2 separate regions of the Homo sapiens genome follow, and region 2 is linked to region 1. The links come from fine-mapping of genetic effects on gene expression. A gene starts in region 1. The other region holds a variant in brackets. All regions are shown on one strand. Distances are between the middles of the regions. Region 1 holds the start of C6 (complement C6). Region 2 has its middle 49 kb from the start of C6.

Evidence for each region. PIP is the estimated chance that this variant, and not a neighbour inherited with it, causes the effect. A credible set is the group of variants that fine-mapping cannot tell apart.
Region 2: its variant is the best candidate, but not a certain one, in a credible set for the expression of C6 in esophagus mucosa (GTEx, PIP 0.77).

The regions. Positions count from the first base shown.
Region 1 is chr5:41,211,627-41,215,626 of GRCh38, reverse strand. C6 (complement C6) reads left to right here and starts at 2,095. Exons shown (of 18, transcript NM_000065.5): 1 at 2,095-2,251.
Region 2 is chr5:41,260,516-41,265,054 of GRCh38, reverse strand. It overlaps a transcript of C6 not described here. Among named protein-coding and RNA genes, the nearest start is that of C6, 49 kb to the right of the region's middle. The variant C/T (reference allele first, on the strand shown) is at 2,467.

The DNA.
Region 1 (4,000 bases):
ACCTTATGAAAATAGGAGATTTTGTGTGAGAAGGTCTTCTGTGTTACCAGCCAAAACTTCAGAAGGCCTGCAGTTGCTGAAGCAACTCAGCCAGTGCCAGTAAACTTCATAGCAGACTTTGTTTTTCAGCAGCACACATCTAAATATTGTTTAGAGAACACCTATATTCTTTGCATGCACAGAGTCAGACCTGAGCACAACTGCACACAAGTATTCAATTCCTAGCTCTGAAACAATCACCTACTCATCAGTCCCAATTAGCCTACTTCTACTTCCCAAAGCCACTGGACACTTTGTTGTATGTATCAGACCAGAAATATTTCTCTCTGGGTTGCAACTTTTCCTATAAGGGCCAGACGGTAAATATTTTAGGCTTTTCAGGCTGGAGAGCCTCTGTTGCCAGCTTCTTAACTCTACCATTGTAGCACAAAAGCAACCATAAACAATGGCCAATTGTGTGACTTTATTCCTATAAAACGTTATTTACAAAAACGGGCATCAGGCTAGTTTACCAATCCCTGCTCTAGAAAAAGGACTCATGAGTGAGATATGTCATTTAACCTTCCAAAAGAACCCAAGATGGAGAACCCAAATACATTGTTGAAAAGATTCTAGATTCTTAGTTGGTGCTGGGTCAATTCTAGTGTTTGGATCACAGACATTCGCATTCCATCTCAAGGATTTCCCCTTACCATCCTTAACTCTCTCCACCTGTGTTTTTCCAGTGCCACAGCATACAATCTTACTTCTCTGTCCTCTTCATAGCCCACATTACAAATAAAGTCCTCTTTAAGCTCATCCTACTGGCACCTAACTTTGCATCTCTCTGTATTATGACTTCCAGTATTTGCCTTTAGCTCCAAACACCTTGAACTCAGGACAAATGAATTTTATTTTAGGACCTCAAAGACCAATTAAAGAAAGAAATATGCAAATTAAATGACATATATTCTTGTCCAATCACCAAATATTTCTTTTCCTGTTTATCTTCTCAGGTAATCAAGGGTGAAGCTGCTATCCCAGCCCCAAACTAGCTTCAACACTGGTCTGCAGCACACCACTCTACTTTCTCTTTAGGCCCAAATTTCAATCTTTAAAATCTCAATGTAGTATAAGAGAGAGAAAAAAGACTGGAAATCAGATCATCTGTATTCCAGTTCTGACTTACTCTGGCCTTGGGAAAGTTACTACCATGTATATTAAACTATGTGACCTTTGAGTGGTGGGTTCCCAGCTGTGTTTCAAGTAATCTTTAGACTTGCTGAGATCATCATTTCCCACCATGTGATAAAAATCTAAGCTGTCTAAGGAATATTTGTTTTAGTTGTTTTCTACTGCTTTGAAAAAAGTTTGAAAAACACTTGTTTTACAAATGAGGGACCAGTGTTCCAATGAGGTATAGTGATTTATTGAAGCTCACATAGCTGGTAGCTGCTTAGTGCAGAAACAAGACTAGAATATGTATCCACATTCTCAGTCCCTATAGTTTTTTTTCTTTTCTATTGCACTATTTTGTTCTGCTTCACCTTAGGATGAAATCCATTTTACTTCAATCTAAAGTTAAATTGCAACCATTTCAGAGAAGCGTAATCATCATTACATATAAAGAGCCCATTTGATCATTGCTATTTTAATTCTTTCCAAATTAAATTTTCTGTTTGGTTTTGCTGGCATATAGAAACACTTTTTACTATAATAAACTTGTGTTGATAAATCATACTAAATTCATTTATTAATTCTAATGTTTGTAGATTCTTTTGAATTTTCTACATACACAATCACATTGTCTCCAAAAACATTTCTTAAATAGTTACCAATAACTATTCTATAATCAAAAACTAAGAATCTATACATTCCTAAGGGGGGCAGCAATTTTAAGCAATTAATCTAAAGGATTCTTTAAAATGGAAAGAGAGATTTCTATGCAGTAGCAATAGCTACTACAATAGCCCTTGAATTGAAAACTCACTGAAAATTCAGGACTCTGTGTAACATCCAACACCCAGAGTTTCAGGGTTACTACTGATTGGTGTAATCATTTGCAAAGTTCAAGTTCCAGAGAACATTTATTTTGACAACCCTCTAGGTGTTGCTAGGCTTCTGGGATATGACAGCATTGCCTTGTGTTAGCTAGCAATAAGAAAAGAAGCTTTGTTTGGATTAACATATATACCCTCTTCATTCTGCATACCTATTTTTTCCCCAATAATTTGCAGCTTAGGTCCGAGGACACCACAAACTCTGCTTAAAGGTGAGTAATATGATGATTTCATTTTCAATCTTAATATTTCAAAATTGTTAATCATGTTTCCAACAAAATTACAATTTCATGCATAAAAATATGTAACTCAGACTATAACCATTTCTTTGTCTTTCTTTTTTATAATTGCTTTGTTTAAATCTGAAAAGAACCAGAGGTCATGTTTTTTAAACAAATGTCATTCCAGAGGACATTTGAGATCAAGTTTCTCTATGAGTTAAATTAGTTAAAAGTAAAGCAAACATACTCTTTAGCCAAGGTCAGTCATGCACCTGGACTACCCAGCTTACCTTGGCGATAGTAAAGGTAGAAAGATAGAAAGGCTCATTTCTTGAGCCTCTGGGCATGCACAGAAAAAAATAATAAGAAATAAGAAATTCAGTAAGTTTACATGGAGATGTAAAGGAAGAACCTATAGCTGGGGATAAACTAGAGCATCCTCAGAAATCTGTTGGGTAAGATATGCTGAACTGCCTTGCAGACAAATGGTTCATGTGAGTAAAATACATTAGAAAGTGACAGGTTAGAATAAGATGGGCTTCATTTTAATTGAAATTCTCTAAATGCTCATAAAGCTATCATCAATGGTTCAATGGGATCACTGATTTTTGGAAAACTCAAGAGGGGATGGCAACTATGAGAAAACTGAAGAATTTCTGCTTTTCTACGATGGCACTGAAGTGGAAGACTTTTTTCCTATCTTCCTCTATTGACCGAACATTCTTTTATTCTATGTTTGTATGAAAATTGTACAGTAATGGGTAAAATGCCTGTGTGTAATTTTAGATACCTCCAGAATGCCTAGAGATGTGGAAATTAATAAATAAGAAACCATATAATACAATATGCTAGGCCATCATAACAAAAAAATTCAGAGAAGTAATTATTTTTATTTGATTAAAAATTGTTGCTGGGCTTGGTGGCTCACGCTTGTAATCCCAGCACTTTGGGAGGCCGAGGCAGGTGAATCACAAGGTCAGGAGTTCAAGACGAGCCTGACCAAAATGGTGAAACCCCGAGTTCACTAAAAATACAAAAATTAGCTGGGTGTGGTGGCAGGGGCCTGTAATCCCAGCTACTCGGGAGGCTGAGGCAGAGAATTGCTTGAACCCAGGAGGCTGAGTTTATAGTGAGCTGAGATCCTGCCACTGCAGTCCAGCCTGGGTGAAAGAATGAAACTCTGTCTCAAAAAAATAAATAAATAAAAATAAAATTGTTTTAACATAAAACAATTTGTATTCCTAATAATAGAATATTAAAAAAGAAAAGCTACCAATTAGCTCTTTCATTAGTACCTCATCAAATAAGTTTTAATGTTACCATCTTAATTTATATCAGGCTCCATATTGCCTCAGAACAGTTATAGCTTAAAGAGCGATCAGAATATTTTATAAGGGTTCTGTTTTTGCAGTTTTTGATGATAATTGGAATAAAACTCACCCATACCTTTCAAGCTTTTGGAAGTTAAAAGACAGTGTCTGCTGAGAACTGAGAATTAGTAATCTCTTGCAATTTAACTTCTCCAAATTATTTACATGAAAATTTCACCAGAAGCTTTAAGAATTTGTTTTCTCTACAATTGAGGAAATATTCTGGAAGATATCTGTCTTGTCCAACATCTAATAAGAAAAAAAAACAACAACAAAGTATCTATTTAGTTTTTCTTGCTGAAAAGGTCCCTGTATGAGAAAATTCCAATTTTGGCAGTGGGGGGCAAGGGTGAAGGGTATAGGGGAGTGG
Region 2 (4,539 bases), 49 kb before region 1:
GATCCCAGTGAGTAGAGCTGATCTTTTGACCTAATCATGAAGAAAACATCTACACGTTTTAAAAAATATCCTGATTCTGACACTTAGACACAAATGCTCTTGGATGAAACCTGGCCATTGGGGCACAAACCCCTGAAGCTCTCACTCACTCTTGTCGGTGAGATTTGCCAAGATTTCCCTCTGTTACTAATGTAGCCTAAAGTCATATCTTTAAGTCAGCTTTTAAAAAATTAAGCAAAAGGCTAGCCTAAAGAACATAGGCAAACAGAGGTCAGACTTATCCTTTCGGCAGGCTGAGAAATCTCCATTTGGTTGTGGAAGCAGGCTTAATGGAAAGATAGCCATTAATAAATAAACCCGACATTGCAGTTTGGCCAGAGGAAGCAATATAGGCACCAGCACACTAGCCAACTTTTAGACCTTACTAGGACAGAATTACACATGTTCTAATGACTTGTTTTGGTTGAACCTATGATAGGCACTTCCTGAGAAAGAATTTCAGAGTCTGTGCCCCTGAACCATCAATTTCATCCTGCTTTTTGGCTTTATCTAGGAGCCTGAAGTTTACTGTAACATCTTGGTTGCATCCTACTCTTCCACAGTAACATGAGGAAAGAAAGAACTATCCCAATCTCTAGGTTTTAGGAGATAAATAACATAGAACAGTCTCTTGGCTCTTTCTTTAAATAACTTTTCTTCCTGGCTCCAACTCCAATCCCATCCCCTCAATGCCTGCCCAGGGAAGTCAGGACCACGTCACTCTGGGTCCTGTCTTCTGTCCACTACCCTCTTCAAGGTATACATGGATACTATGAAAAGCTTTGAATGCTGTTCTTTTTCTATTATCTCATCCGTAGCACAGCTGTGATATCTCATTGGACTCTGGCCTAATGGTTTTTATGGAGTCAGATAACTATTCACGGGACTTATCTTCATTGAACACATGCTGGGGAGAAAAATAATAGCAGGATACAGGAAACATTATCTGCTTCAGATTCAAAAATTGGCTTCCAACTATTTGATTCTGGTTCATGTTATGAAAGAGGAATAAATAGTTTGCTTTCTGTTGCTATTAATGCTTTTGCTGAACCCTATCCCATAACTTAACAATCATACATCAGAAAAAGCAGGTATTTCATGCTACTTATGGGTGATGGGAACCATCTATTAATATACTGCATCCGTTGGTCCTTATTGAGACCAATGGCACCTATTTCTGCCATAATATTGAGGGAAGAGAGTACAGTCTATATTTGAGTTAAGTGTTCTGGTTCCAGTGACCTCTATGAAAACATAAGGATGTTACCCAGACGGAGAGACACACACACCAACCTATTGATGCTCCCAAAGAGTACTTTAACAGGTTTTGTTAATATTGGGTAGCCTGAATCTAAAGCCATAAAGAGAAGCAAGATTGTCTGACAGAGGAGGAAACCAGGAAAGATTTCTAAGCAGGTCAGATCTTGTATGTTGTAAAAATAAGGACACTATACACTCAGCAGCTGTCATACATACTCTGAGTACTAAGGCGATGTTTACAGAGAAACAACTGAGAGGTCTAGGAGGAGGGGAACTCTAGGCAAAGTTGAGAGTGATGGTGGTGAGGAGAGATAAGGTAAGACGGGACCAAAAGCAAATCTTGGCTGAAGCATAACCTTGTCTGACCTTGAATTTTGAGGAAATCAAATGACCTTAGGAAGGAGTAGACATTGTTCAAATAAATTACGTGAAATTTGTATTTACAGTTTTTTAAAAAGTCAAATAATCTTAAAAACAGCAAATATCTTTCACCCAATCTACCTTAAGTTTTGATTCATCCTTCTCACATGGAACAGTGAACTATCTATCAGCCTATAAACTACCTGCACGTGGTCACTTGTTCTATTGGTCACTGCAAAAACTGTAAATGTTGGGGAACAAATTCCATGAGATGGCCATGGCTTATTTCCAAGTTTGGTCACTTTACACCCTTGTAAATGACATCATGTTTCAATTCAATCCCAAAAACAAAGACAAAAAATTACCCAGTCATATACTTATGTTATAATAGCTTTCTTCCTTAGGTCGTAGTGAAGAAAAGATGAAAACACTTCAGCCAAAATAAAAAAATAAAACTAGTTATTTTACCACCTGATCTATGAGTAAAGAATCAAGTACGTTGAAAATCCCTCCGTTTGAAGGAATGCTTTTCAGATAGTGGGTAAAACTAATTTGTTTTGCAGCCTTCACCTTGTACTGGATATTCAAACATATTACCTAGTTAATTAAATCTCTTCATAATATGATAATGCTTGTTTGCACACTGACTCCAAACAGCAGTCACGTATGAAGTTTGTCATAACCAAATGGATTACAGAACACAGAAAAGCAAAATTTCTAATAATCTCAATTTTTCTAAATCAAAGAATGCCTCTCCATGTTTTCTAAGAATGGAAACAAAAGAAAAGGTTGAATTTCACCCCAAAA[C/T]TGGGAAGTCAGTTACACAAGCCCTATCCATACAGATATACACAGTCTTAAAAATGAGACTTTTAAGATATCTTTTGAGTTATCCCAGAAGACACAAACTTCCTGCTCACTATGCACACCTAGAGGACCTCAAAGAGGAAGAAATAGCGAAATAAAAAGTCCTTTCTATGGAGGTAGGAAGGAGGAAGCAGCATTTACAATAAAAAGGCACAATGGTTTCAGGTGTTAAATTCCTCCTTGATCCTCATACTACAATACAAATCTGAGCTTTTGCTCCATTTTAAATTACTTCAAGCAGTGCCTACCATCCTGGAGTGTGACTGTAGCCTTTACCAATTGTTTGCTATAATTTTATCTGTCTTTATTTTATCTTTTTATTTTCCCTCTCCTCCCTGCCCACCTTAATTCTCAATTCCAGTTTTGTAGAACATACTTTAGGAAAAGTGGATTTTGAGAGTAAAGAAGAAAGGAAAGAAAGAAGGAAAGAAGGGAAAGAGACAGAAAAAGAAAGAAAAAGAAGAAAGAAGAAAAAAGAAAAAAGAGAAAGAATTTTCTTGCTCACTTATATATATACAGGATATTTTGTTTTGCCAGCAGTTTATCCTCCAAAGGAGTGTGTCTTGCTTATTATATAATTCAGTATATTTTATTCAACAGAATGTTTTTTATTCATTTTCTATGTAATCTAAAAACCTGTCAAAAACATAGAATTTGAAAGTATTTCGAATGCAGAAAAAAATCACCGCATTCTGATGTAGTGACATTGCTATTTAAAAACGAAAATCAATCTCATTAAAAATGAAGTGAAAGATAATAATTTTGGATTGATAAGTGACAATTAAATAAGTTTTAAACTACTGTTTTTATTATTTGAAAATTTTAATTGTAAGATTTGTTTTTAAATATTTGAGATGCAACTCCAATCTTTCTGAATTTGCGATTTTTAAAAATTGGAATAGTTTTTGCAATGTTTAATTTGTGTAAAAAAGCACTAAAAGATAAAAATAAGCAGGAGATGGGGGTAGGAAGATAAAACAGAACAACACAGTTGTGTCTGGATTTGCATTGAGTCTCTGTTGCAATTTCTTTTAAAAAGGAAACTAAAATGTAGAGATTCTCAATCCGGTTTAGCATACATAGGAGTTTCTCCCTAAAATATACCCGTCTCTCTTAATTTTGTATGTCTTCAACATAACATTCATTAAATTTTATTCTGAAACTGAGTCTTAAAAACTGAAATACTTTTAAAGAGAGATGTTTCTAGCTTAAATATTTCATCATATAGTAAGATTCCTGCTGAGAGCTCATAATAAGAAATATGAAACCAGTTACTCTGGACTTGGATTTTGATGTGCTGAAGTATCTGCTGGTATTTCTTCAAGTCATAGATGCATAGTAAGTTTTCTACTTTTTTCTTCTTTTTTTTTAATTGGTGGGCATGCATATGAGGTTGGTGCTTCTTGAAATGGCTGGTTAAAAGATTTCCAGATGAAAGTTTACAAAGGCAGTAGTTCAGTTTTATAGAATATGGTTTTGGGTACATTTGCGATGGTGCTTTTTATAATATGTGATTGCTGTGTGACAATGTCTTTGTGAAGTCAATGGAGATTTCACATTTGGAAAACAAACCTTTGTGTAGTATCTTGTCATTACTAATTGAAGTGTAATTTTGTCAAATCTAACTTGTTCATGTTTTCATTTTCATTCATTCTGTTTCTCCTTACCCACAGTATCCATCTATAGGACTGGTGTGTTTAAGACTAGAGAAGTTGCAGGGGTTTTTTTGGTTTGTTTTTGTTTTGTTTTTTTTTTTGAGATGGAGTTTCACTCTTGTTGCCCAGGCTGGAGTGCAATGGCGCCATCTTGGCTTACTACAACCTCCACCTCCCAGGTTCAAGTGATTCTCCTGCCTCAGCCTCCTCAGTAGCTGGAATTTACAGGCATGAGCCACCATGCCCACCTAATTTTTTTTTGTATTTTTAGTAGAGATGGGGTTTCTCCGTGTTGGTCAGGCTGGTCTCGAACTCCCAACCTCAGGTGATACGACCGCCTCGGCCTCCCAAAGTGCTGGGA